Regions from separate parts of the Homo sapiens genome. Here all the other regions are linked to region 1. The links come from fine-mapping of genetic effects on gene expression. A gene starts in region 1. Each other region holds a variant in brackets. All regions are shown on one strand. Distances are from middle to middle. Region 1 holds the start of TBC1D7 (TBC1 domain family member 7). Region 2 overlaps PHACTR1 (phosphatase and actin regulator 1). Region 3 overlaps GFOD1 (Gfo/Idh/MocA-like oxidoreductase domain containing 1). Region 4 overlaps PHACTR1 (phosphatase and actin regulator 1). Region 5 holds the start of LOC100130357 (a long non-coding RNA gene). Region 6 overlaps TBC1D7-LOC100130357 (TBC1D7-LOC100130357 readthrough). Region 7 overlaps PHACTR1 (phosphatase and actin regulator 1).

Region 1 (4,069 bases):
ACTCTAAGACTAGTTTTACTTACCACCTTCTCTCACAAATTAGAGCTTGCCTGTTCCTAAAAACTTTGCTTAGGGTCAATGAGCTATCTTTCAAGGTAATACATAACATTTCTCTAATGAAACCTCCAACCATCTCTTTGTTGTTCTGAAGACCACCCCAGTCTGTGTGTATGCCCTGAACTGCAATTCTGTTTTCCCAAATAAAATGATTTAGAGACTCATCTTTGCATTTTTAATTGATCTTGACACAGCCAATTCACATATATCCCTACTGTGCCACATGCCAGGCACCATGCCAAGCACTTTACATACTTTCTCATTTAACCCTTCCCACCTTCTATATAATCACCATTGGTGATGATTTTATTTTATTATTAATATTTTTTGAAATGGAATTTCTCTCGTTGCCCAGGCTGGAGTGCGGCGGCACCATCTCAGCTCACTGCAACCTCTGCCTTCCGGGTTCAAGCGATTCTCCTGCCTCAGCCTCCAGAGTAGCTGGGATTACAGGTGTGTGCCATCACACCCAGCTAATTTTGTATTTTTACTAGAGACAGGGTTTCACCATGTTGGCCAGGCTGGTCTCGAACTCCTGACCTCAGGTGATCCGCCTGCCTCGGCTTCCCAAAGTGTTGGGATCATAGGCATGAGCCACGGCGCCCAGCCAGCACCGATCACTTTTTAACACACTACATCATTGACTTATTTATTTTAGTTTTTATTGGATCTGTCCTCCCACCAGAATGTCAGTTTCACAAGGTTAGGGATCTTTGCTTCGGTAGCTGATGTATCCTGAGTCCATAGAACAGCGCCTGCACACAGTAAGTGCCCAGCCCTGGTGATGATTTTAAAGACAAGAAAAGGCAATTATAAAAGTTAGTGACCGGCCCAAGGTTTAGATGAAGTAAATGGAACTTGTGTAAGGTAACTTGAAGAACTCTGCTTACTCATGTGAACACTACCCAAGGAAGGTTTAGTACCCCAGTACTGAGGAACTAAAGATGGTGGTGGTAAGGGAGTGGGGAGGGGCATCAGTGTTTGAGTTCAACCACCACACGTTTCTTCATTTTTAAGTTCTGTCTAGCCATTATACACACATTTGTCTGCACTATAACTGGACTTCTGCACTGTTGATAGTCCTAAGTTTCCTTCAAAGCTTGGCATCCGTGTGGCTTATTTGGTAGAGATTTGAACTTTCAAAGGGACGATACCCATCATTGGGGATTTCTCTCAAACCCTGGCGGTTTAAAAACCTACTTGGGCACTGCTGCTCAGCCAGCCCGAGGACCAGGGAGGCAAGCACAGAAATAGAAAGCATTTGTAAGTGTTAGTAGCTACTTTAAAGAGTAACTCTGTTCTGTTAGACCTACTAATAACAAATTAGGAGCTTGCATTTAGCACATCTTTTTTTAAAAAAAAAACACGTTCATTTTTCTCCTATGTTATAGTGTTTTACCTGAGAGGCTGAATATACTAAGACAATGGCCAAATCTAATATAAAAATAGACCTCCAATCCACAACCTGCAGCAACCTGCCCAGAAAACCAGTCAGTTACCTACAATAACCAACCCAGGGAGCCTGCCTGCTCTAAATCAGACTTGCACTCCTCTGCCTGCCTTTTTTCTTCTCATTCGGATGGTCTTCATCTATTCCCACATACCTGGGGTGGGGAGGAAATTAGCAAAAGCAAAACCCGGGTCCTGCACGCAGGCAGCTTAAGTACGGCCCTAGGGCTCGGGTCTTCCCTAGGCAAGAACCTCGAGGGCCGGACACGGGAGTGCAACCCAGGCACGCGCCTTCGGATGGCCAGAGTAAATGGTCGCGAGATTTTGCGGGGTAGCAAGGGGCCGGGTGCCCACGGCGGGAGAAACTACACTACTCTGGAGGCGAGCCTAGCCCTTCATCCCGTCGGGTTTCACAAACGAAGCCAGAGCTTCCTGGAGTGAGGGTGGAGCTTCCTGCCCGCGCCCTCTGCGCATGCGCCCGCCCGGCGCCCGCCCGGCGACCTGGAGTTGATGTCACGTCCGGCGGCGGCGGCAGCGGCAGCGGCAGCGGCGCTGAGTTTTGTCTCCCGGGCCGTCTGGGCGCGCGCGGGTGTCCCAGGTACCCCGCCGCCTCCCTCCTTCCCGCAGGACTCGTCCCTCCTGGCCCTGGGCCCCAACGGTGCCCGCCTGCCCGGCGGTCGGTCAGCGCACAGGGCACGGCTTCCTCTGCTTCTCCCGGACCACTTAGTCTCAACCCGGGTGTGTTTGCACTACTAGAGGTGAAGCATCCATCATAGAGAGAATGGGACCTGGGGTCTTGGACCAGGGTGTTTTTACTTTTCCCATCAGGTGGACGCGCATGGGCAGGAGATATTATTTGCAGCATTTCCTCCTAGAGGACGCCTTTGTCATTGTAGTGCAATCTAAGAATGGGTGTCCTTAGACAACAGGGACCGACCAAATCGTCATGCAGCTGTTTGGATGCTTTAAAAAAATAAATCCCCACACTCATTACGCGTTTTATGCTGCTGACTTTTTTATTTTTAAGACATCTGCTCCCGAAAGCTCAGAGCCCTTTAGCATTTCATTTTCTAAACGAATCCTAATCTTTCCTGTGACTGAATCGGTTCAGAGGATATCTTTTCAATAAGGAAGGAAGCCCTCCCCTGCTCACTGGGGACGTCGCAGGGTTTTTAAACCTAAAGATTTACTCTTTTGTGCACAGACGCTGGAAGCATTTGGGTGAGGCAGTGCAGTGCTTTTTGGGAAATGCATCAGATCTTTTCTGTTCTTGAAACGCCAAATCTAACTTGGTCTTTTTTTGGATGAATTACCGCCAGTATTATGAAGGTTACTGTGAAGGAACTTGAGACCACTGAACTTTTTGAGTTCTTGCGGTAGATTTTAAATCGTTTTTCCGTCTTCAACTCTGACTTTGGGATCACTGTCAATTGGCTACATTCTTTACCCTCTTCTAGTTATAATTTAATGCGATTTATTTGTTGTGGGTTTTGAATTTCGATAGCTACACTTAATAGAATTGTGTTTAAAAGAAAGATAAGTGAGGAACTCGTGGCTTTTTACTTTTATATAACTTAATTTTTCATTTTACAAAATGCCCATTTAAAAAAAAGTAGCTAAGCAAAAGAAAGGAAATTAAAATCATCTAGAATCCTACTATCTAAAGATAACCATTGCTAACATTTTGGAATAGAGTGTTAAGTTTTAAAATACATGAAATTTGTAAAAAACAAAAAATGAAATCATAGTGTATACTGTTTGAGTATAATTTGCTTGACGTATCTTGCCTGGCTTCCATTTCACTTATTTTTTTTCTTTGCGCATTTATAATAGCTACAGAATGTTCTATTGTGCTAGGCACTCATAGGTATAGTGGGAAACCTAGTGCATAAACCTTGTGCCATCTATTTTATCAGCTCAGAGAACTTTTAACTTATATCTTGGTTTTTAGCCAAGATGCATAGGTGAGATAGTTGCAGAACTGAGTTAAAGGAAAAATTTAATATTGGGTCCTATGCAAGGGTACATCATATTGAAAAGGTGGAGAACATCATTGAAAATTATTCTAATTCTTGACTCTTTGTTTCTAGACTCACTTTTCCCCTTCGTCTTTCTCTCCCTTTCTGTCTTTCTGTGTCTCCTCCAAGAATGAAATATGACTGAGGACTCTCAGAGAAACTTTCGTTCAGTATATTATGAGAAAGTGGGGTTTCGTGGAGTTGAAGAAAAGAAATCATTAGAAATTCTCCTAAAAGATGACCGTCTGGGTGAGTACTTTTAAAAATTAATCTCATTGGTTCTCAATCACTCCACATGTTCTGAAGTAAATATTTTCTTAAAAGACATCCAGAAGCATTGGTTACTTGCTGTATTTTTTAGTGATGTGGTGAAGCAGAATGGTGTATTTTGAGAAAAGATTTTTCAAATTTATATTTCACTGAGCGTCAGAAGTTTTTGAAAGGTTTCTTAAGAAAGTCAGTAGTATTTTTTTCTTTTATTGAACCCATATGTTTTCATGTATTATCTAGGTAAATTTGCTTCTGGGTAAATTTGCGATAACTCT
Region 2 (4,076 bases), 190 kb after region 1:
GTCTAAATAGTTTGGATAGAAGATCAAACCCAGCCACAATATTCCCTTAAGCCAAAGACTGATCCGGAGCAAAGCCTAACTCTCTTCAATTCTATGAAGGCTGAGAGAGGTGAGGAAGCTGTGGAAGAAAAGTCTAAAACCAGCAGAGTTTGATTCATGAGTTTTAAGGAAAGAAGCTGTCTCCATAACATAAAAGTGAAAGGTGAAGCTGCAAGTGCTGATGGAGAAGCTGCAGCAAGTTATTCAGAAGACCTAGCTAAGAGCATTGAGGTGGCTACACCAAATAGATTTTCTTTTTTTTTTTTAGGATACGTTCATTTTATAGAATACTTTTGGGTCAAAAAACATGATGGAAAATTCCAGTAAAGTACAGTGAGAATAATGACAAGAAGCATGGAAAGCTGGAAGAATGGTATAATAATATGCAGGTTAAAAGTGGCAGCTATAATCTCACTTTTATATAAATACATGTGCAGACAAAAATATCTGGAAGGGTATACATTAAAACACTAAAGGTAGTTGTTTCTGAACAGGGTGACTTTTTTTTCCTCCACTATTTGCTTATGGACATTTTCTCTTTTTTTTTCTATTTCAAATACATTTTTATTTATTTTTTATTTTTATTTTTTCCCCTAGAGATGGGTCTCTAGAGAAATGCATTGCCCAGGCTGGTCTTGAACTTCTGGGCTCAAGCCATACCCCCTTCCCTCAGCCTCCCAAAGTGCTGAGATTATAGGCATGAGCCACCGTACCTGGCCTAAAATACGTTTTAATTAAAAAAATTAAAATGTGTTTTCCACATTAGTCTCTTTCTGTCTTTATCTCTGTCTGTCTTTGTCTCTATATATTGTCTTTACTGATAGCACTGAATTTTAAGGTCACAGCTGCTTTAAAATTAACAAAGTGATTAAGACCTGTGGGCTAAGAAACGGTTTTCTTTGACTTGCAAATGTATCCAGATGAAAAGTCTTCTCAGTGTAATAAATCGCTGTAATAATCCTTGAACACTTGGCAAATGCCTTTGATTGAGAAAAGTCAGTTGCATGAACTGGGGCTGACCTGAAGAATTACGGAGTCTGCATCCGGGGTGCAGGGCAGGTGTACAATGTCTAACAGCGACTCCGCAGGGCAGCTGGGGACGCACAGGGCTCCCAGAATGACAGGGCGGTTCCAAATACACCAGCCTCCCAGAAACGTGGCCCTGGCGATCTAAAGACCTTCAGATCCCAGGACTGCCCTACCGGATTCAGTGTCTAATGAATGGCAGGTGTTAGGAGGCAGGCAGGGGTTTCTTGTGGCAAATCCTGATTCACAGCTGGAAGATGGATTTCTGCCCTCAGGAAAACGGTTTAGTGGGAGGTGGTGAGAGTTAGCTGAAATTTCCAATAAAACGCAGTCAGAGCAGTGAGCTAGTGGGCACAGGAGAGCCTCAGTCAGTGGCTCAGTTATCTTCTAGTAAAACAATGGAAGAATTGGCAATTTTCTTCATATTTCATTTTCCTGACATGCAGGATGGTGAAGTGGCGAAGAGCCTGACTCTGGAAATAGCGAGAAGGGGTTTACGCTCTGGCTCTGTGTGTACTCGGGTAGGTTACCTAAGTACTCTATATCTCAGTTTATCAGCCCCTGAAATGGACGTAGAGTCCCCTGCCTCATGGAATTACTGTGATAATTTTTTTTTTTTTTTTTTTTTTTTTTT[A/TTA]GTATTTATTGATCATTCTTGGGTGTTTCTCGGAGAGGGGGATTTGGCAGGGTCATAGGACAATAGTGGAGGGAAGGTCAGCAGATAAACATGTGAACAAGGGTCTCTGGTTTTCCTATGCAGAGGACCCTGCGGCCTTCCCCAGTGTTTGTGCCCCTGGGTACTTGAGATTAGGGAGTGGTGATGACTCTTAAGGAGCATGCTGCCTTCAAGCATCTGTTTAACAAAGCACAACTTGCACCGCCCTTAATCCACTTAACCCTGAGTGGACACAGCACATGTTTCAGAGAGCAAGGGGTTGGGGGTAAGGTTATAGATTAACAGCATCCCAAGGCAGAAGAATTTTTCTTAGTACAGAACAAAATGGAGTCTCCCATGTCTACTTCTTTCTACACAGACACAGCAACAATCTGATTTCTCTTTCCTTTCCCCACACTTCCCCACCTTCCACTCGACAAAACCGCCATCGTCATCATGGACCCTTCTCAATGAGCTGCTGGGTACACTTCCCAGACGGGGTGGCGGCCGGGCAGAGGCGCCCCCCACCTCCCTCCCGGACAGGGCGGCTGGCGGGGCGGGGGCTGCCCCCTACCTCCCTCCGGGACGGGGTGGCTGGCCGGGCGGGGGCTGCCCCCCACCTCCTGGAGGGGGCGGCTGCCAGGCGGAGACGCTCCTCACTTCCCAGACAGGGCGGCTGCCGGGCGGAGGGGCTCCTCACTTCTCAGACGGGGCGGCAGGGCAGAGACACTCCTCACCTACCAGATGGGGTGGTGGTCGGGCAGAGACACTCTTCAGTTCCCAGACGGAGTCGCGGCCGGGCAGAGGCGCTCCTCACATCATAGACGGGGTGGCGGGGCAGAGGCGCTCCCCACATCTCAGACGATGGGCGGCCGGGCAGAGACACTCCTCACTTCCTAGACGGGATGGCGGCCGGGAAGAGGCGCTCCTCACTTCCTAGATGGGATGGCGGCTGGGCAGAGACGCTCCTCACTTCCCAGACTGGGCGGCCGGGCAGAGGGGCTCCTCACATCCCAGACGATGGGCGGCCAGGCAGAGACGCTCCTCACTTCCCAGACGGGGTGGCAGCCAGGCAGAGGCTGCAATCTCGGCACTTTGGGAGGCCAAGGCAGGCGGCTGGGAGGTGGAAGTTGTAGCGAGCCGAGATCACGCCACTGCACTCCAGCCTGGGCAACATTGAGCACTGAGTGAGCGAGACTCCGTCTGCAATCCCGGCACCTCGGGAGGCCGAGGCTAGCAGATCACTTGCGGTTAGGAGCTGGAGACCAGCCCGGCCAACACGGCGAAACCCCGTCTCCACCAAAAAAAATACGAAAACCAGTCAGGTGTGGCGGCGCGCGCCTGCAATCCCAGGGACTCGGCAGGCTGAGGCAGGAGAATCAGACAGGGAGGGTGCAGTGAGCCGAGATGGCGGCATTACAGTCCGGCCTCCGTTTGGCATCAGAGGGAGACCGTGGAGAGAGAGGGAGAGGGAGAGGGAGACTGTGGGGAGAGGAAGAGGGAGAGGGAGACTGTGGGGAGAGGGAGAGGGAAAGGGAGAGGGAGAGGGGGAGGGGGAGGGGGAGGGGGAGGGGGAGGCCAAATAGATTTTCAATGGAGACGAAATAACCTTCTATTGGAAGATGCCATCTAGGATTTCTTACGGGGGAGCAAAGAAAGCAGTTTCTTGAGATGGGAGTCTACTTCTGATAAAGATGCTGTGAACATTCTTAAAATGACCAAAAAGGATTGAGAATATTATATTAACTTAGTTGAGAAAGCAGCAGCAGGGTTTGAGAGGACTGACTCCAATTTTGAAGGAAGTTCTATTGTGGGTAAAATGCTATCAAACAGCATCACATAGTGCCAAAAAATCGTTCATGAAAGGAAGGGTCAATCAATGCTACAAGCTCCATTGTTGTCTTATTTCAAGAAATTGCCACAGCCGCCCCAACCTTTAGCAACCCTGATCAGTCAGTAATCATCAACATAGAATCAAGGCCCTCCATCAGCAAGAAGATTATGACTTGCTGAAGCCTCCGATGATCATTCACTTTTTTTTTTTTTTTAGCAATACGGTATTTTTAAATTAAGGTATGTACATTGTTTTTTGGACATGATGCTTAATGGCTACAGTGTAGCATAAACATAACTGTTACATGCACTGAGAAACACCAACATGTGTGTGACTTGCTTTACTGAAATACTCACTTTATTTCAGTGGTCTGGAACCAAGCCTGCAACATCTCAGTGGTCTCTCTAAAAATAGGAATCACCATCACTATGTCACAAACCATGACATCGTGAATAGACACTTAGTAAGCATCTGCTGCGGGCAAGACATGGAGGACAGTGGGAGAGCACGGGTGTCTGCAGAACA
Region 3 (4,076 bases), 53 kb before region 1:
CACAATAGCAAAGACATGGAATCAACCCAAATACCCATCAGTGATAAACTAGATAAAGAAAATGTGGTACATATACACCTTCGAATACTATGTAGCCATAAAAAGGAATGAGATCATGTCCTTTGCAGGGACATGGATGGAGCTGGAAGCCATTATCCTCAGCAAACTAACACAGGAACAGAAAACCAAACACTGCATGTTTTCACTTATAAGTGGGAGCTGAACAATGAGAACACATGGACACAGGAAGGGGAACAACACACACTGGGGCCTGTTGGGGAGTAGGGTTGGGGGAGGGAGAGCATTAGGAAAAATAGCTAATGCATGCTGGGCTTAATACCTAGGCGATGAGTTGATAGGCTCAGCAAACCACCATGACACACATTTACCTATGTAACAAACCTGCACATTCTGCACATGTACCCTGGAACTTAAAATAAAATTTTTTTTTAAAAGTCTGTGGGGTTAAATGGTTACATGAAAATCCACAATTCCAACTTGTATTAGTCTGTTCTCACACTGCTAATAAAGACATACCTGAGACTGAGTAATTTATAAAGGAAAGAGGTTTATTGACTTACAGTATCACATGTCTGGGGAGGCCTCACAATCACGGTGGAAGGTGAAGGAGAAGCAAAGTCACATCTTACATGGTGGCAGGCAAGAGAGTGAGTGCAGGGGAACTTCTCTTTATAAAACCATCAGATCTCATGAGATTTGTACATTATCATGAGAACAGCATGGAAAAGAACCCCCCCCCCCATGATTCAATTACCTCCCACTGGGTCCCTCCCATGATACCTGGGAATTATGAGAGCTACAGTTCAAGATGAGATTTGGGTGGGGACACAGCCAGACCATATCACAACATGATTTCTTCACCATCATATTTGACTGGCTGCCAGATTGCATTCAATATTGTAATATATTATAATCAAGATAAGCACAGATACACAGAGCCAGATTATGGGGGTTTGGATCCTGGCTCAACCACTTACTAGGATGTGAACTTGGGCCTTGACTCTTGAGGGTTTGGCTTTGTGTGTGAAATTGGAAGGACAATAACCTCTTCAGGTTTTGGGAGGATTCAGTGAGATGATTCCTACAAAGCACTTCGCAGGTACTTGGTGGTAGTTACTGCTTCAGTCAGCAAGTTTGTGTGTGTGTGTGTGTGTGTGTGTGTGTGTGTGTGTGCGCGCGCGCGTGTGTGTTTTATTTCTCTTACTCCAGGGGGCACTTTTAGACTTCAGTGTGATTGAGCATGGTGACCTGTCTCAGGAGGAGGTGTTCATGAGAGGAGGGTGGCTGAGGGCTTGGGGGAGGAGGAGGGGAGGGGATAAACCACCTGTCCACACCCCTTCCCACTGGAGCACAAAGCAAGCCACACTTGGGCCTCTGTCCTTGTTCTCTGCATCTGACACACCTTTAGGGCATTGCAGTGTCTGAGACATCTAGACATCTCCCACATGCTCCACCCAAGTCCTGTGCAAATGTGATGAGTGGCTGATTGTCCAGGAGCCCCAGGCCAGACTTGTTCCAGCACTGTGTCCATGCAGAACCCTTTCCTGGGAATCAGTGAGTCCTTTCCATATGGAAGCATCCCCAGGATGTAGAAGGGAACCTTTTCAGCTCCGCTGGGACCCTTTTCTCAGGGGCTGGAGCCTTTATTACCTGTATCCTGGCCTCTTCTAGGGCCTCACTGTATTAGGTGGAAGAGAAAATATGAAAACTTAACTCCTAGCCCATTTCCTTGTCTGTAAAATGGGGCTGCTGCCACCTGACATCACCAAGCAGGCTGTGGGCTTCCAGCTTTTCAGATTTTGAATGAGTGTTGCTGGGGCCAACACAGATTCAGGTGCACCCAGTTTTCTGGGAGTTCTTGCCAACTGGGTTTCTGTCTTCAAAAACAGTCTGCATTATTTTTGCATATTGTTGCAAAAGAAAACAAAGCACCAGGACTCAGCCCAGCCAGCACCAGGGGCAGCATGACTGCTCTCCACCCCCAGGAGTGAGCAGTATTTCAGCCTTTCAGCCTTGGATAGCTGGGCTTGCTGAAACCCCCATCTCATTCAGCTCAGTGGTTGTCATTGGGTCCCTAGGTGAAACATTAAGCACTGTCCCTTGGAGATAAGAGGTTGTAGGAGGGAAGAAATCTGCTGGCTTCTGGGCTGCAGGAGGAAGCCTGGGCAATCTGGGGTCAGATGCTTTGTAAACATTCCCTTACACTCCCCACTTCTGTGTCTCACCTTGCCCATTTCTGAGGTTTCTGAGCTCTGTTGATAAGA[C/T]GAATTTCCCAGCGATCCTCAGCCTAGTGAGGATGGTAGCATAGACCTATGAAAATATCAGCTTGCAACCAAAAGTGAGGTTTTGTGATTTGGAAAGAGGAGTTTTAATCTACAGCCTTGCATAGCTAGCTAAGCCTTCCTTATTTCCTGGGAGCAGTTAATAATGTGTGTAGCTAAGTGCTCAGGCAACCTCTACCCTCCATTTTTCCAGCCTTGACTCCCTGTGGCCACCCCAGCCAGCCAGCAATGCCAACACAAGTCTCCGCCAGGGGTGTGTGTATGTCATAAATTGAACTTGACATTCGCTAAGCTGCTCCCGCCAGCACCCCATCATGATATTCACGTGGGCAGATCTGGGGGCTGCAGTTTTGCATTTTGTTTTCATTCATAAGAGCATCTGCCCAGGGATCCCTGGAAGAGAGCCCTACAGTAAGTGTATTCTTTGGTTTTATTTGTAACTACATCTCAGTAATAACTTTCTTCTTGCAGTAGGCCTATTCCTTCCACAAACTTTCCCATATACTATTCATTTCATACTGTCAGCAGTCTTAACAAAGCTGGCAGGACCAGATATCAGCTCTGTTTCACAGACGGAATGGAATGAGTGGCAAAGCCAGATCTAGAACCCACGTAGCTTTTGAGTCTGTATCTTTCCCATCCCCTGTGCTGCCACGCACTTACCTCCCTGCCACCAACTTGTTTTGAATTCTTGCAGCTCTAAGAGCTGACCTGTGTAGTTTTTATTTGGGTCTGTTATTGACTTGAGCAGACATTTATGAGCACTTTTCATGGGTCAGGACAGTGCCCATCTGTCCTTTCATCCTCAAAGCAGCCTGTTGAAGAAGGTGTTATTATTCCAGTTTTACAGGTAAGTGAACTAAGCTTCTTTGGGCCACATGGCTTGCAAATGCCAGGTGAGAATTTCAATCCACGTCCCCTGACCCTCATTTCACTTCCCTGTCTGACAAATCACACTAGATCTTGGGCTGCTTTACTAATAGGCACTCAGAGCTTCCTCCATGTCCAAATCAATCTTTTCAGAAAGGGGTCCAGAAAGCTTGGAAACCTGTTGTACTCAAGAGGCATTTAAATTGCCAACAACAGAAACTACCTGGCTGATTTTAGCAGAAGGGAATTATTTGAAAGGACCTTAGTTCCTCACGGAAATGTATGAGAGGCTGGGGAAGTCAGCTTGAGAAACACAAGGAACAAAGAAAGGCTTGGCAGCTGCAACCACAGTCCAGATCACACCAGAGAACCCATCAGGTGTAGACAGAGTCGGTTGCTTGCAGTGGTGCTGGTGCTGGGTGATAGAAGCCGTCATTGCATCACGGGCATCACAGCCCTAGAAACTAGATGCTGCTACCCCCACTGCCAGCACAGATCTCCACCTTCCTCCATTCTCATGTACCAGGCCAGAGTGGTGTCCCTGGTTGGCCAAGCCTGGCTGTGTGCCCATGGCTTTGCTGCAAAGGCTTCTGGGAAAGCAAACAGCTGGCGTGCCTTCTATGGGGGGAGGCTGTACCACCCACCAAGACTCTCAGGTGGGAAATTTCCCAATCACAGCAAGGAGATTCAGGGGCTGGGCAGCTCCCCAAAATCACACATCTCTACTACCTTTCCTCCCCCAAACACACAAACACTCAATTATTGCACTGTAGGTTACTTGTCAGTTTTTACGATTACCATCTTCCCACCACTCCCTGGGCCTTGGCACAGACTGCGTCTACCATTGGAGCTGGTGCAGGTGAAAGTGCTCTGGGCAGTAGCACGTTAATCATGTTTACCACC
Region 4 (4,076 bases), 42 kb after region 1:
GTTAACTTTTTGGAAAGGCCAAGCTGGCGTCTTTCTAAATGGCATGTGTGGTGGAGAGTTCCACCACCTAGAAAGACTGGAGTAACGATGGAGTCACTCCAGAAGGTGAGAGAGCTCTGCAACTGAGGGCCTGCGAGCTCTGTTATGAAGGAAATCGAAAGCTGCAATGGGCCTCGTTAGGATGCTGTTAGGGTTTAGGAGGGTCCTGGCCTCATCGCACACCCTATCCTGGGTGTCCCAGTCAGAGACACACCCACAGTCACGCTCCCTGGCATCATGAGGGTAGAGGGAGGAGCTCTCTGGATCAACTGGAGCAGGAAGGGGCACTGTGGACAGGTGTGGCTGGTGTTGGCCTGATTCTGGCACATGCCCAACTCTGGGGCTCCTTCACAGAAACTCTTCAGTGCAAAAAAAAAAAAAAAAAAAAAAAAAAAAAAAAAAAAGAGAAGGCCATGGAGTGGTTCCAAGTCCCTCAGTGGCTGGAAAGCCAGTCCTACAGGAGTGGTTTCTGGCCTGCATGCACTGGTCCTATACACAGAAGCTAAGAACTCCCAAGCCATATAATCAGCTTCAAGGCGCACAGAGAAAATAAATGTCAGCCAAGCAGTTTCTGACCCCACAGGATTCAATAGGGTCCTCCCACTCAGACTTATAAACAGCACAGGAGTACCTTAGCAATGGCTGTGTGTGTGCGTGGGTCACTCATGACACTGGACACTCTGGACACAGTTGGGTTGATTATTTGAACTGAGCATATGACATCTTTCCCCTTCTAAACCAGAGCTTCCTGAAAGGCAGCTCAGCTCAGGCAGAGGGAGCAGGATGGGTGCTCAGTGCCAGCCTTCGTAGCCAAGAGGCAGCCAGACTCCCCCAGAAATGGGCCCTTCCCTTTTGTTCATTGTGTGGGTGGTGGCTGAAAGGAGGGAAAAGCCAGGGGCAACTGAGAAGTGTTCACTCCTTCTTGGCATCAACTTCAAAGGGCCCCCAAACCAAATGTCATGTCTGGAGCCAGTACATTTGGCCAAGTGTAGAAGTCCAACCAGATCATTAGCTTTGCACAGTACCCCCAAAACAAACCCACCCCTTCAGCTTTCTTTGGACTCAGATGACAGACACTTGTGAGGAAGAGGTTTGCTGGAGACTTCATGAAGGTAGTGCCTGCTGGGCCTGGCTGGAGAGGACAAGGACCGTTCCACCTGCCAGACAGTCTTCAGTCAGGGCCCTGCTGGTGCCCTTGGCACTGCCGGGGGTTGGGATGCATTTTGGTGTCAGAAGTGGGACCAGCAGCTCGGACCGCCGAGCCATCACTTTTGCGTTTTCACACATAAAATCCTGATTGTGTTTCCTTGATTTTTCTTCTTTTTAAAAAAAAGGCAGTTCAGAAGATTTACATCGTAATGGGGAAGTGAATAAATACCAGCACTTATGGTTCTTATAAATTTATGTTTTGAAGACAGCATAGCACTCAAGAGGAATTCGACTGTTAAGGTCGGTGAAACCTAAGGAAACAAACAATTACATCAAGACCAAGGGGCTGCCAAAGGTGCAGGATTCAACAGTCCAATCTCCCATCTTCAGGGAGGTTCTTGACCGTGAGAGGGAGGTGCGAGCTTCCCACCGTCATCCCCACAGGAGTACCACTGAACACACACCTGGCTTTGAAAGTTTCATCTGGGGCAGCCCTGGTGGCCTCCACCTCCTGCCATCAGCCTGGATCCAGCAGCAAGGTGCAGAACCCAATCTGTGTCTCTGAGTCTCTAGACTAAATACTTGCTATATCCTATTTCTCTAAATGTTCCCCCCAAAAGAAAGTCAGAATTAAATCAATGGCTCTGTTGCTAACTAGCAATGCAACCTTATATAATCCTCTTAATCACTCCATGCCTCGGTTTTCCCAAATATCATCATGATGCTGGACTGTCAGGGAGAATGTCAGGGAATAACAGAAGTGGTCCACTTTGGAAGTCCCGTGTGGATGTGGTATTTTGTTCAGGTTTGGCCTCTGCTGACTGGTTGCAAATTGGCAACAATCTTTTCTCCTTGACCTAAGTTTTCACAAAAACCCACCTTGGGGTCGTTGGTAGTCTGGTGCTTATCAGACCTTTAGTTTAAATGAGTGAAACTCAGACTTTGCAGAAAGTTGGTTTTAGCCCGGGCCATCTGTGTTCCACTTCCTCGTTTCAGTAACCTAAAGTGGAACCGCATGCCTGCCTTCCTACTATCTTCCCTCTCATGGCACCCTCCAACCCACTCATGTCCCACAAGTGGGAGAGCTT[T/C]ATTTGGAGATAAATATTGCAACTTGAGGGAAAAAAAGGAAAAAAAAAACCCTTAATACTAACCTTGTTAAGTGTCTACTCAATTCATGAACTTCCATCTCAGTGCTTTTGAATTCATTGAGCTCCTTTCGGATGGCAGCCTGGAATCAACAGAAGCCCATCAATGTGCAATGGGAGAGAGACAGAAAAAAACTCCCCTTTCAGTTCATTCCTAACAACATATTTTTCTTCTTCAACAAAGACAAACAAGTTTAAGATGGATTCTTTCATTGGGAGGAAGAAAAATCACCTGAGATGTCCTTTAAAACAAAGATTCCCCTCCTTCCCTAAATCTAAGTTGCAAATGATGACAGGCTATTGCCCAAAGTGTGTTTTTCTTCCTCTTTTCATAGAGCTGTGGCATTGAGGCATCAGTGGTGGTGTACACCTACCCCACACTCCTGGGGGCCCAAGAACACATTCAATGTCAACCTCTCATCTTCCATAAATAAACAAAGCTCAGCACAGGCACAGTGATGCCTCGAGGTGGAGACTTCCAGAAGGCGTGGATCAAATTCTCCAACCAAATTAGGGGGACAGGTGATGGCCAGCTCCCTACCAACAGTTTGTTTTTGCTCTTTTACAACTTCCCTGACTCTTCAGTGATGTATTTCACCATGTGAGATACATTTTGAATAACCTCACATGTTCTGAGATGATCCCGAATCACCCCATCCTTATAATACTGCCACTGAAGACACAGGGCCTGGAATCAGACAGCAAAGAGAGGCCATGAGAGAGCAGGGGAGGAGGAGGGGCTGGTAAAGAAGGCAGCTGGGGCCAGAGACAACCTCACTCCTTCCTCAAGGGTGGAAATTGCAAACGTGTGCCTTCTTGCATAGCTCTGTCTATGGCCGATACTTGCTTTGATGGGAATATCAAGGCCCCAGGAGTTTGAGGAGAGAAAAGTCTTCCTGTAGGATCAGAATGGCCCTCCCCAGGAAAAGAAGGCTGGCTTAGGTTTAAGTGCCTGGGTAGCAGCTTTGGGGGTGGGGGCAGGGGTCACCCCATGCTTCCTGTCTTCTGTCCCCAACAGCCATTGAGAAACTGGATATGTTTTCGGCCTAAGAGCTACTCAGAACTCTATGAGGGTGCAAGTAGAGATGTCTGTGGTTTTCTTGCACACTTGCTAATATCCTTATCCTTGCAAGCATACCGCAGAGAGAGTGTGGACAGGAGAGGACAAGAGTGAAAGCCCCTTCCTCTTCGTATTTAGATGACACACTCCTGGGGAGCTGGGTTTGTCTGTCAGGGGCATGGCAATGCCAGTTCCTGGGTTGCTCCCACAAATTCCCTTGCAGAGAAGATGTGAATGCTGTGTTTACAGAGGAGGGCACAGTCTTCCACACATGGTGTCTGTGGGTTGACCCGCCACAGGCGAGGTCGTCTCTGGAAGTCTATCTGCCTCTTGCTGCTTCCGTCCCAGCCAAGTGCAGCAATGTGCCTGCATACATGTTTCCTGCACCTCCTGGATCCAGGGTTGGTGATAATGTAGCCAGCCTGGGCCATAAATGACTTCCTGCTGTATCATATAAGAAAACCCTGGGTCCCTGAAACGGACAGTGAAGGCAGGACTGTTGAGCAGAAGGCCCCTGACACACTCCATAGTTTCTATCGTTACCTACACATTGGGCAGAATCATTATTCCAGTATATATATATATATATACGTGTATCTATATATATATATATATATATATATATTTTTTTTTTTTTTTTTTTTTTTTTTTGAGATGGAGTTTCACTGTTGTCATCCACGCTG
Region 5 (4,076 bases), 33 kb after region 1:
CCAGGCTGGAGTGCAATGGTGTAATCACAGCTCACTGCAGCCTCGAGCTCCTGGGCTCAGGTGATCCTCCCACCTCAGCTTCCCCGGTAGCTGGTAGCTGGGACTACAGACACATGCCCAGCTAGTTTTTTGCATTTTTTGTAGAGATGGGGTTTCGTCATGTTGCCCAGGCTGGTCTCGAACTCCTGGGTTCAAGAGATTCACCCACCTCGGCCTCCCAAAATGCTGAGATTACAGGCATGAGCCACTGCACCCCACCTTCTAGTGCTTTCTTTAGGGGTGTCCCCCCTTGGTGTGCTGAGGGCAGCAGAGCACCTTCCTCTGTTGTGACCAGAAGGTTTGGACTAAGTGACCCTTTTAGCATGAATGGCCTTTGGTTTTGTTGGGAGGGAGCTGGGGGCAGCACAAGCAGCTTTCCACTGGGCTCAAGAAACCTGCCTTGGCGTCTTCCTCCACCTAGGCATGATGCTGAGGCCGGGGAGGCAGCCCAGGCAGCATCTTGCCTCCCCGCACAGCTTTGCTGCTGAAATCTAAGTGACTCTACCCCGCTACTTGCTCTGAGCCAGCCGAATGTCCGGTCAAAAAAAGAGCATTTGTGCTGTCCTGTTGACTGGGGCCTATAGTAAGATTGAAACCACAGCAGAACTGTGCACACCTCTGCTGTCCAAATCAGAGATGCTTTTTGCTTCTAATATCACTCAACTACTCTCCAAACCTGAAGCTGTCACTCTTTGTCCTTCCCCTCCTCCCCACTCCAATCAGTTACGTTCGGCACCTGCAGGGTTTCCGCTCATGCATAGCTAGCTGATTCCTGGAGGGCAAAAACCATGTCTTTACAGTGAACTAAAAATATCAAGAGACGCACTTACCTCCCCGCACAGAGGGGGGTCACTAGGGAGACCTGAACTAGGATGGCTCAATTGGAGCCTCTCACTGTTTGGCCCAGTGGGTCTCCGTTTTTCTGCCCAGCTGCTGGACAGCCTGAAACATGCCTGCCTTTCCTTACTGTGGCCGGTTCCTGGATTTTAAAATTGGGTATGATTGAAATAAGGTCGTCTGGGTGTGCATGTTACACGCAAGTTAAATTTCCCTGTTCGAGTTTTGTCCTACAAAAGGCAGTCAGCCCTGTGTGTTCTTTCTGGTCTTCTTATTTTAAAAAAATAATTGTAACTAAATTTTTGATGGAAAAGGAACATGTGCCAATAGAGGGGAAAGGCAGCCAGGACAAAAGGGTCTACAGTGACCGGTGGCTGTTCTCCGTGTCCCAGCCCCAAGGACCCTTCCTCAGCACCAACTCCTGGAGTCTAACAATGAGCGTGTTATTTCAGGTACTTTTCTAGGAAGAAAGAGGGGATTTGTCCTGCCTGCTTTGGGGCTGTCATCACCAAGTCAGTGAGATGGAATTGAGGAAAACCCAAGGTGGCTCAGCTGCCACAGGGGCTCCTGCCATGATTGCGTGGATGCTGACGAGCGGGCTGGGGGCATGGGGGAGTGGGGCTCGCCCAGGTGACAGCTCATATTCTAATGGTGGCTTGGAAAATGTCCCCACCACCCCAGCGACAACGCAGCACACAGTCTGAACAAAGCCAGCCTCTTGCCAGATGGCATTTTTGCTATTTTAACCCCAGGGCCTTGCAGAGCCGGTACGCTGGGGCTTCAGTGAGGCGGCCAAGGCCTTCCAGGAGGCTCAGGTGTTGAGCCATAAAGCCCCAGATGTGCTTCATGCATGACGGCCTCGGTCGCACAGTGGCAGGCCTGCCACACTGCGGGGACTGGCCACAGGGTTGCTGCGTGAGACCAAAGCCTTTACTCTGATGCCGTCCCTGGTCAGGACTGTCTGAGATAAGAAGTTCAATCCATGTGTGAAGTGTTTTTTTACCTGTGTAGCTGAAGACTGGCTTGTCCTCTTCTGGGTGGGGGCTCTGAATGGACCCCAGGACCATGGACCCCAGGGACCCCCCTGCCACACTGGACAAGGTGTCAGTGACCACTCCAGGTTGGTGATTGGTGATTAAGGAACAGACAGCATTTTCCTCCCTCCCTCTACCATTTCTCTTTCTCGTTTTTGTTTTGTTTTGTTTTGTTGATTAAAGGTAGAACAGCAATGGTATCTCCACATAGGAAACACCAAGCCTTTGTGACCACATGAGCCGCAGCGTCTTCATCATGGATGAGGAGGGGAACCAGTTCTGGAATTCTGGCTCAGGGTAG[A/G]TGCATCTTAACGGAAGAAGAATTAGTCAATTCTGTTTCCGTGGTTTACTCTTCCTGTCTCCTGCAGATGAATTCATTAGTTTAATTAATGAGAGCCCTTTGCCTTCCTCTGCAGTGTTGCCCATGGAAATAGTGGATGATCATGGCTCCCTATTATGAAATGTGGAGAGCATTATTTGATTAGGAGCAGAACCCTTTTCCCCCCCAGAAAATAGCCTCTAGGTAAGGGACTGGACGCTCACACACGATGAAGTGTCTGGTGTTCTTCTCTCTCATTAGGTAGCATGCCCTTCTCTTCCTGCCTTTGCAACAGCTCTAGGTAGGACCCACACTGTACAAGTGCCTCATTCGTGACTTCTGCTTCCCTTGCAGGAAGGCATAAATGTTGGCTGACTGTCAAATGCTTGTGGGAGGTCCCCACGGAGTGGAGAAGCGGGAGACTCAGCTTAATCACAGACAAAGTTGTGCATGAGAGGTGAGAGGGAGGAGCTGGAAGCCGGGGCTTGGAGGCAGTCCATGATCTTTCCGTCTGTGATCCTCAGTGTCAGAAAACTATGTAATCACTCAAGACAGGCAAATGGGATAACTGGATGGATGCTGAGGAAGTGTGAACTCAAGAAGGTAGAGGGAAAGCCACGACACGTCAGCGTAGCAGGGAGGTTAAGGGCATTGCCTTAGAGTCAGGCAGACCTGGGTTTGGAAGCCCCTCCGCCACTTACCATCTGTGTGACTTTGCCCACGTTGTTGTTTGGGGACCTGAGTTTCCTCATCGGTGACCAAGGTGTCGTAAGGGTTAAAGAAAATGGTGCATGAAGATGGCCTAACAGAGTGCCTGGGGTACGGTAAGTGTTTACTGTGTGGGAGCTGTTAGTGGTGCTGTTGGTAGGGATCAAGTGACCAGGTAGCCAGAGTTAGAAATCAGGGCCGCCACCTGCCAGGTGTCAGAAGAGACAGCTATTTGTTCATACTTTTTTTTTCTTTGTATGCTTCTCATTGAGTTCCAAGGTTGCCTACATGAGACCTCTCTTGGACTCCTTTCAGGAAAGCTTAGTTGCTCAGTGCCCGAGGGCCCTTGTTAAACCCTGATTGTCCCTGAGGTGGTCACCACAACATGGCCACATCAATAGCATCCCTCACAGGACTCCCAGGTCACACGCACCAGAAGGGTCTGCTTGGGAAGCCTGAGCAGAGTGATGTAGCAGGGGACAGGAGGTGAGGCTGGCGGAAGTGAGCAAGGGCCACACTGTCACTACGGATGCCACACTGCAGAGTGGGGCTTGATGGGTAAGACAGTGGAGGCAGGTACCAAGAGGGAGGGTGGGGTGAGCCCATCTGAGTTGGGAGACATGACTCTCATGGCAGGACTGGATGCTGAGGCCACAGGCAGAAAGATCATGGCTGCCGTCATCCAGGTGGGAGAACCTTTTTCAAAAATTAGTATATCTGTATTTTATTTTATTATTTATTTATGTTTCAATAGCTTTTGGGGTACAAGTGGCTTTTTATTATTTTTTGGAGACAGAGTTTTGCTCTTGTTGCCCAGGCTGGAGTGCAGTGGCACGATCTCAGCTCACTGTAACCTCTCCCTCCCGGGTTCAAGTGATTCTCCTGCCTCAGCCTCCCAAGTAGCTGGGATTACAGGCACCCACCACCACACACAGCTAATTTTTTCTATTTTTAGTAGAGATGGGGTTTCACCATGTTGGCGAAGCTGGTCTCGAACTCCTGACCTCAGGTGAGCCACCTGCCTCGGCCTCCCAAAGTGTTGGGATTACAGGTGTGAGCCACTGTGTCCGGCCTCACAAGTGACTTTTTGTTACATGGATAAAATATATAGTAGTTTATTCTGAGATGTTAGTGCTCCC
Region 6 (4,000 bases), 21 kb after region 1:
TCACAGTATTGATTTGCTCACTCAACAGTTATATATTGAGTGCTTACCATGCCAAGTGATGTGCTAGGTACTGAAGAACCAGCAGTGAACAAAACAGATACAGTAGCTTCCCCCCGTGAGCTTATTGTCTGATAAAGGAAAAAGACAATACATAGTTTTAAAATGTTCACACATCTCCATCTTGTTTATTATTTGTACTGACTTTTGGATGAAATTTTCTTTGCTCTGAGACATAATATATAACTCTGTGTGTGTGTTTTCAACCAAGTCAATAGGAAAAAAGTGCATATATCCCCTTTGCAAAACCAACCAAATTTCCTTGTTTGGGAAGTTGTCTGCAGTGTTATTGAGAAATTCTAGGAACCGTTGAGCAGTATAGGGAGGTTGGATAAACAGGAAGAAGAGATATCCTGAAACAGAAAGGGGAAAGCTGGACCAGATATTATGATGTGGGCCCCTCTTTGCCTGGCTAACTCCTGTCTGTTCTTCAGAGGTCAGCTCAAATGTCACCTCTCCTGAGAAACTGCTTCTGCCTCCTACAGCCCAGGTTAGGATTTTCTCCTGGATGTACCCAACATCTTGTGCTTGTTCCCATCATAGCATCACAGCGTTACAGTGTATTGTAGTTACCTCTTTACTAGTATGTCTCAAGCTGTAAGCTCCTTGAAGGCAGGGATTTTCTCTTACCTTTCACTCCATTCATTGTGTGTAGCACAGTCTCTGACTATAGTGGACATTGTAAAGGTGATGAATCTCCTCTTTAACAGAAGCAGAGAGGTATAGATATTGAGTAAAATAAACATTACATTTGCTTAAGTGATGCGGGCCCTGGTTGTACTCCTGCAGATAGTGAGTGTGGACTTTAGGATTTGACTCTTAGAGCCCATTCTCAGCCAGTGGACCCTAAATATAGCAGCCAGCCTAAATATAGCAGCCAATGCAAGATGGATTTGGCCAGGTTTGGGGAGCTGGCTTTATTAGCTCTCCAGTCTTCTAGTGTTGGCTGCCACCTGACCTCATGAGAGAGGCTACCAAGTGGAATCCAGGTGCTTTGTTCCCTCTGAGTTATCCCTTGAATTCTAAGAAATTCTTGTGCACATTTATGTTGAATACAGAGTTCACCCTCTGGACATCCCTGTTGTGTGAGCCTGCTTGGCACTGGTGCACAGTGGTGCTCAATCCAGGGCAGTGTATGTATGGTCAGTGACTGGTCAGCCCCTTCTCATCACCATCACTTTTTGTCTTACTCTTCCTAATGCCCTCTCCCCACTCTAATCCCACTCTATTTCTTTGGTTTTACCTTTCCTCTTTCCCCCTTTTTTCCTTAGTATATAATCTGCTGCTCTAGACCAGCCAGTAATATAATGGGCCTTCCTTAGCTCCTCAGAACAACTGAATTTTGCTTTGGACTTTTGCCTTAGGCTGTTGAATCTGGCTAGTGAAGTTAGTATTAGGGTGACCAACCATTCCATTTTGCCTGGGACTGCCTCAGTTTTAGCACTGAAAGAGCCCTGTGTCCTGGGAAACTCCTCAGTCCTGGATGGTTTGTTACTTTAGTTAGGGCTGACCTAGGAAACTGCTGTGTCACAAGTGACTTGGATAATTCTGAAGTTTTGTTTTCTAATACTTCCTTGAATTCAGCATGTACTTTTTTTTCATCAGAGACTATAATATCAGATGATGTTATGACACAGAAAATGAATAATCTCTGTTCTTGCTTAATCTTTAGCCAAAAGCGTTTGAACAATACTTGAATCTGGAAGATGGCAGACTGCTGACTCATCTGAGGATGTGTTCCGCGGCGCCCAAACTTCCTTATGATCTCTGGTTCAAGAGGTGCTTTGCGGGATGTTTGCCTGAATCCAGTTTACAGAGGCAAGTA[G/A]GTCTTTCGAAGACATATTGAAGGCTTGGCGTTAGAGCAGAGTTCTGGCCTTTCATGTGGTCATCCCTCAGATTATAAATTTGCTTTAGAACAATACAGTAATTTGAAGCTCAGTCCTCCAGCAGCTACCGTAACAGCACATGATTCTGCTTATTCTTGAATATACAATTAGAAAAATTAAGGGCCCTCAGTGCGTTAGATGCTGTGAAGCAGTCACACCTCAAATGGTCTCCATGAGTTTATATAAGCGTCAGCCCCTTTTTTCCAGAAATGTGACAAATCTTCCTCCAGTAGAAATCTTAGTGTTAGTTTCATCATGATATCTTTAAAGAAGCTGAAAGCAGTCAAAGATTTGACTAAGTTCTTCCAGTCAGTTTCAGACATGTCTGGGTATTTCGGAGTCCAGGTGCCACCCATTAAGACTTTGTGATGTAGTAGAACAGTAACTCTTAAAATAAGTTATGGCACTGAACAGTGCAATACACAGAGAACATTATAAGATAATATGTAACTAAGTGTATGAAGTAGAATACCAACTTTTAGGAGTTACAGGAATGATCAGAATTATTATTTTAGAGTGGTTATAGATCAGTAACTGGCTCCTTACGCCCTTGGAGAAGTTTAAGGAGTCTGTCCCCAGAATCACTGGCAATGAAATTGAATTTATCCCATTTCATATACATCTTTTGTTGTCCCTTAGTAGGCTATAATTATATTAGCATTATGGCATATTAGCAGAATATAAACCATTAGTTTAGGATTTTCTTTTTCTTCCTCAGAAATGTCAGGTTCACAACATGAGGGAATATGATTTTGGTAGATTCCTAGTGGAGCAGTAATTTTTAGTAAACTTTCCTTTCTCCTTCTAGTGCTGATTGTATCTAGAATAGATTTCAAATGGCTTCTGTATTTTGTTGTTGTTTTGGTGATTATTTCATAAAAGTTGTTCTTTGAAGCTTTTACATAAAATTGGAGCAATTTGATTTTATTTTGTAATTTGAGATGTCTAGGCTAAACATAATTCTGAAACTCATATAATTTGATTATATCTCCTTATTTTTGTAGGGTTTGGGATAAAGTTGTGAGTGGATCCTGTAAGATCCTAGTTTTTGTAGCTGTCGAAATTTTATTAACCTTTAAAATAAAAGTTATGGCACTGAACAGTGCAGAGAAGATAACAAAGTTTCTGGAAAATGTAAGTGTGCTTTGATTTGATTTTGAATCTGGAAATGAAGTTACCTTAGCAAGTCAGATTTTCCTGTTACATTAGATTATTTCAGAGAAATAATTACATGATTTTAGAGAAATAATACCTTAGAATGTTTCAGAGAATAATTATAATAATGATTATTTTAGGGAAATTATTTAAGAGAAATAATAATTTGATTTGATTTTGAATCTAGAAATGAAGTCACTTTAGCAAGTGAGATTTTCCTGTTACATTAGATTATTTCAGAGAAATCATACAGTGTATTTTTACATTATAAGAAACACTTTTCCCTGAAAAAGTTTGGCCTAAAGTTGGCCTGAGGGTTAGTTTGCATCCTGTCTTTGGGAAATGATGGTCTGAGACCATCTCGTGAATGTGTCCACTTAGAACCAGAGTCTCATCCTCCATGTGACTATCAGCAGGCATGTCAGGAAAAGGAATAGGTGGGATCTGTCATTTTACAATGAGTAATTTTTGTCAGTTCAAAAGGGGTTCTGTATTTTGGAGGATTTTGTAAGCCATTTCATTTCTGTTACTGTCTCTGGTGTAGTCCCAGTTGGGTTTATTAATATACAGTATTAACCTAGTATATTGCTGAAAAAGGCAATGGTAATGAAATTAACTTTTCCCTCGCTATGTATCTTGGAATACCCTTTACCAGGCAAGAAGTAGGATTAAAGAGACTTATGCCTGAATGATTTTCACAGAATCCAAAATCTATTCATTTTTAAAATAGTATTAACATTTGAAAAATGGCCTGGTAAATTATAATAAAGTACTGAGTCAATATGCGTTGAATAAATGAATAATCATCATTATAACCAGAGGTGGCTAGCAGTGCGAAGCCTGTGCTAAGTATTTTCCATGGGTTACCTCATGTCCTACTGTGAACAGCTCTGTGAAGTCAG
Region 7 (4,076 bases), 62 kb after region 1:
ATGCTCTTTTCTCTGCAAATCATAAATACTAGTTTAATAAGCTAAGGCTGATTTAATGCCTATAATGTAAGGGTATGGTTCCAAGCACTGTACATATGTTAGTTCATTTAATCTTTATCTTAAGATTTTTAACTGAATTCCAGTTGCAAAGTCTCCTTTGCCCTGGGACGTTACATATTCATAGATCTGGGGATGAGGATGTGGACATCTTGTGGAAGGGTGGCCAATATTTTGTCTGCCATAACTATGATACTTTACTAGTCAGAGGTTGCAAACTGATGCCTGGTGCACTGGATTTGACTCTATCAGTTCTCTTTGGCATGCTCAGAGGTTACACTTTTTTCTCTTTTTTGAGACAGAGTCTTGCCCTGTCACCCACGCTGGAGTGCAGTGGCACAATCTCAGCTCACTGCAACCTCCACCTCCCAGGTTCAAGCGATTCTCCTGCCTCAGCTTCCCGAGTAGCTGGGATTACAGGTGTGTGCCACCACGCCCAGCTAATTTTTGTATTTTTAGTAGACATGCGGTTTCACCACGTTGGCCAGGCTAGTCTCAAACTCCTGACCTCAGGTGATCCACCCACCTCGGCCTCCCAGAGTGCTGAGATTACAGGTGTGAGCCACTGAGCCCAGCTGGTTATACTTTTTTTGAGCCTGAATGCCTTTAGACAGAGTGTGTGATCAAATTAGCCCTCTCCCCAGGCCTCACTTATGTAATACAGGTGAGCACGCTCACATCTGTCCTGCTTTTTTTTTTTTTTTTTTTTTTTTTTTTTTTTTTCAGATCATTCCTGGACCCCCGAGGGCCTCTGAGTTTGAGACGCTGGCTGAGATCAAATGATAAGAATTCCAATTTTTGTTTTCCTAAGTCTTTCATCTGCTAATCTACCCAACATGAACCACGGGCCACATGAAGGGCCAGACACATTCTTAAGCGGCTCACAGCCTAGAGGTGCACATCTGTGATTACAATGTGCAAGGTAAAACTGGATCAACAGTTTCCAAGGACTGGCATGTAATAAAATATCCTCAAAACAACAAGCAAGTTGGGCGTGACTTAGACTTTCACTGCCCATGTAGAAGGCACTGTACATTCTTGCAGCATCTCAGTTGGCCAGCAAGAGGTGAGTCAGAAAAAAACCATTCAGCAGCCACATGGAAGTGGGGCTCACTGGGCACAAGGCAAAACTGTGAAGAAGATAAAGTGTCTGTGGTTCTGCATTGACTCTATTCCCTGGAGTCCTCCCCTCTCGAGTTCCTAGAATTATGTTATCACTCTTGCTCTATCTCATTCCTATCAAGACCTGTTTTAGAAATGGGTGCCACAGACTCAGTTACATTCAAATGTAAACCCATTCATTCATTTAGCAAGTTACTTATTAGTGCCAGTGCTGTGTCAGGTTCTACATTAGGTACCAGAGTACAGTGATGAGCAAAACCAGTCCCTGCCCTTCTGGAACAGAGAAGACTGGAAGAGGATGGGGGTAGCCATTAATCAAACAGTCACAGAAATGAGTGCAAAATGTAGCTGGAGTAAGGGCTTCCATGGTGAGGCACTTGGTGCAGGGATCTCTGGATCTGACCAAATCAGGAGGTCAGGAAAGGCTTCCAGGAGGAAGTGACACTGTGCCCAGAGCTCAGGGATGGAAGAAGGATGCTCCTTCTGGGCAGAGAGTAAGGAGAGAAGATTGGTGGGAAGGAGGGCAGGGGCCAGATGCCGTGGGTGTGATTTGGATCTGTGTCCCTGCCAATCACATGTTGAATTGTAGTCCCCAGTGTTGGAGGTGGAGCCTGGTGGGACATGATTGGATCATGGGGGTAGTTTTTCATGAACGGTTTAGTACCAACCACTTGGTGCTGTTCTAGTGAGTTGAGTGCATTCTCGCGAGATCTGGTTGTTTAAAAGTGTGTAGCACCCTTCCCTCTTGCTCCTGCTCCTCCAATGTGAGACTCCTTGCTTTCCCTCTGTTTTCCACCATGATTGGAAGCTTCCTGAGGCCTCACCAGAGGCAGATGCCAGCATCATGCTTCCTGTGCAGCCTGCAGAACTGTGAGCCAATTAAACCTCTTTTCGTTATAAACTACCCAGTCTCAGGTATTTCTTCACAGCAGTGTGGGAATGGCCTAATA[C/G]AGATGCTTCCGGGACTTAGATCTTCTTTTTCTAGGAGCAATGTGAAGCCGTTGAAGAGTTTAAGTTTTAGGGTGTGAGAGGGGAGGAGTGAATGAAATGATCAGACTTACAGTGGAAAGAGATCATGCTGGTTATTATATGGAGAAGGGATTGGGGGAGGCAAGAGGAAACCCGAGCAGAGGCTTTGGGAGGCTTGGCACACCTGGTAAGAAATGGTGGAGGCTTGGGCGAGGCTGTGGCAGTGATGTGCAAGCTCTTAGGAAGTCAGGTAGCATATGTGAATGGACAGGAAGAAGCAGGTGTACAGGATATCTCCTTAGGTTTTCTAACTCATGCAACTAGATGGATGGGAATGCTGTTCACTGAGGCAGGCACACTGCAAGAGAACCAGCGTGTTTGTGAAGGAAGAGTGGAAGAAAACCATGAATTTGAATTTGGATCTGTTACATCAGAATGCTCCTGAGACATATGAATGAAGCTGTCATGTAGGCAGCAGGATACATTTAGCTCAGTGGAGAGGAGAGGACTAGGCCAGTGATAGAAATCTGAGACTAGTCTGCAATATAGACAATATTTGAAGCCATGAGTATGGAGAGAGTAGAGAATGGGAAGAGGCGAGGGCTTAGGATGGAACTTTGCCGAATTCCAGTATTTAATGCATGGACTAAGGAGGATGACCCTGCCATGGATTCTGGGGAGGGGAGTTCTTGGAGGTAGGATGAGGACTAAAATGTCATATCATGGAAGCAACGTAATGGGAAAGAAAATATAGTAACTAATGCTAAGGCTTTCTGAAGTGGAGTCGAAGGTTGCAAGAGGATCGCACTCACACCTGCTGAAGGTCAAACCCAGGGGATGTTCCAATAGACTCGGTCAAACAACTGAAGTCAGCATCTGCTGGCCTTCAACACCTCAGCTGAGAGTACTCTCATTAACTAACCAATCACAACGGCTTTGTGATTTAGGATTTCTGCCTGGCCAATGAACTACTTCCGAAAATAACTTTTTATGACAATCCTCTATTTTAAAAATTCTCTCCTGCAGCCTGCCTTATAGGGCACTCTTCAGGGCTGCCCTGATCCGGTGTACCCCAGCTGCCATTTTTGCTTCCCAAATAAGTGCCTTTGACCTGCATGTCAATCTTTTCGTTAACAGTAAGATGATAGGTATGGCCCACAAAGAGTTCTGAGAGCTGCTGTAAGGTTAGATGAGGCCTGAAAAAAATGCCCACTGGGTTTAGCACCATGGAGGCTGTTACTGACAACACCTAGAGCCCCTTCAGTGGCGTGGCAGGAAGAGAAGCCAGATTGGAGAGGGCTGAGGACAGGGGTGGAAAAATGGATGCACCGAAGCTGGAGGACTTAGCCACGAAGCCTGGCTTTGAAGCGGGTGAGAGAAGTAGAAGTGAAGGAGGCTGTGGTGGAATTTTATTTTATTTATTTTATTTTATTATTTTTTTTTTTTCAGAGATGGGGCCTCACTCTGGTCACCCAAGCTGGAGTGCAGTGGCACCACCTTGGCTCACTGCAGCCTCAACCTCTCGGACTCAAGTAATCCTCTCACCTCAGCCTCCTGAGCAGCTGGGACTATAGGCATGCACCACCATACCTAGCTAATTTTTAATTTTTGGTAGAGACGAGGTCTTTCTGTGTTGCCCAGGCCAGTCTCAAACTCCTGGGTTCAAGCTGTCCTCCTGCCTTGGCCTCCCAAAGTGCTGGGATTACTGTTATAAGCTACCACACCTGGCCAAATTGTATCGTATTTTTTTCTCAGATGAGGGCTCACTCTGTGGCCCAGGCTGGAGTGCAGTGGTGCAAACTCGGCTCACTGCAACCTCTGCCTCCCAGGTTCAAGTGATTCTCCTGCCTCAGCCTCCCGAGTAGCTGGGATTACAGGCACATGCCACCACACCAGCTAATTTTTGTATTTTTAGTAGAGATGGGGTT

Evidence for each region.
Region 2: its variant is fine-mapped to the expression of TBC1D7 in whole blood (INTERVAL, PIP above 0.99).
Region 3: its variant is fine-mapped to the expression of TBC1D7 in whole blood (TOPMed, PIP above 0.99).
Region 4: its variant is fine-mapped to the expression of TBC1D7 in whole blood (TOPMed, PIP above 0.99).
Region 5: its variant is fine-mapped to the expression of TBC1D7 in whole blood (TOPMed, PIP 0.99).
Region 6: its variant is fine-mapped to the expression of TBC1D7 in whole blood (TOPMed, PIP above 0.99).
Region 7: its variant is fine-mapped to the expression of TBC1D7 in whole blood (TOPMed, PIP above 0.99).

What each region holds. Positions count from the first base shown.
Region 1 is chr6:13,326,491-13,330,559 of GRCh38, reverse strand. TBC1D7 (TBC1 domain family member 7) reads left to right here and starts at 2,023. Exons shown (of 8, transcript NM_016495.6): 1 at 2,023-2,264; 2 at 3,654-3,773. The coding sequence starts at 3,662. TBC1D7-LOC100130357 (TBC1D7-LOC100130357 readthrough) reads left to right here and starts at 2,023. Exons shown (of 9, transcript NM_001318809.2): 1 at 2,023-2,104; 2 at 3,654-3,773. The coding sequence starts at 3,662. It overlaps LOC124901261 (a long non-coding RNA gene), which reads right to left and starts at 1,945. Exons shown (of 2, transcript XR_007059457.1): 1 at 1,662-1,945; 2 at 703-835. RefSeq lists an enhancer at 1,678-2,184 and a silencer at 1,818-2,207.
Region 2 is chr6:13,132,419-13,136,494 of GRCh38, reverse strand. All of the region lies in intron 5 of PHACTR1 (phosphatase and actin regulator 1), which reads right to left. Among named protein-coding and RNA genes, the nearest start is that of TBC1D7, 190 kb to the left of the region's middle. The variant A/TTA (reference allele first, on the strand shown) is at 1,700.
Region 3 is chr6:13,379,034-13,383,109 of GRCh38, reverse strand. The region is part of intron 1 of GFOD1 (Gfo/Idh/MocA-like oxidoreductase domain containing 1); the gene reads left to right. Among named protein-coding and RNA genes, the nearest start is that of TBC1D7-LOC100130357, 53 kb to the right of the region's middle. The variant C/T (reference allele first, on the strand shown) is at 2,286.
Region 4 is chr6:13,284,486-13,288,561 of GRCh38, reverse strand. PHACTR1 (phosphatase and actin regulator 1) reads right to left here. Exons shown (of 15, transcript NM_030948.6): 14 at 2,340-2,416; 15 at 725-1,499. The coding sequence ends at 1,484. All of the region lies in intron 8 of TBC1D7-LOC100130357 (TBC1D7-LOC100130357 readthrough), which reads left to right. The region is part of intron 3 of LOC100130357 (a long non-coding RNA gene); the gene reads left to right. Among named protein-coding and RNA genes, the nearest start is that of TBC1D7, 42 kb to the left of the region's middle. The variant T/C (reference allele first, on the strand shown) is at 2,277.
Region 5 is chr6:13,293,406-13,297,481 of GRCh38, reverse strand. All of the region lies in intron 8 of TBC1D7-LOC100130357 (TBC1D7-LOC100130357 readthrough), which reads left to right. LOC100130357 (a long non-coding RNA gene) reads left to right here and starts at 1,896. Exons shown (of 5, transcript NR_160971.1): 1 at 1,896-1,996; 2 at 2,094-2,207; 3 at 2,584-2,686. The variant A/G (reference allele first, on the strand shown) is at 2,212.
Region 6 is chr6:13,305,475-13,309,474 of GRCh38, reverse strand. TBC1D7-LOC100130357 (TBC1D7-LOC100130357 readthrough) reads left to right here. Exons shown (of 9, transcript NM_001318809.2): 6 at 1,730-1,875; 7 at 2,948-3,077. It overlaps TBC1D7 (TBC1 domain family member 7), which reads left to right. Exons shown (of 8, transcript NM_016495.6): 6 at 1,730-1,875; 7 at 2,948-3,077. Among named protein-coding and RNA genes, the nearest start is that of TBC1D7, 21 kb to the left of the region's middle. RefSeq lists an enhancer at 1,035-2,234. The variant G/A (reference allele first, on the strand shown) is at 1,883.
Region 7 is chr6:13,264,543-13,268,618 of GRCh38, reverse strand. All of the region lies in intron 10 of PHACTR1 (phosphatase and actin regulator 1), which reads right to left. TBC1D7-LOC100130357 (TBC1D7-LOC100130357 readthrough) reads left to right here. Exons shown (of 9, transcript NM_001318809.2): 9 at 784-2,083. Among named protein-coding and RNA genes, the nearest start is that of TBC1D7, 62 kb to the left of the region's middle. The variant C/G (reference allele first, on the strand shown) is at 2,130.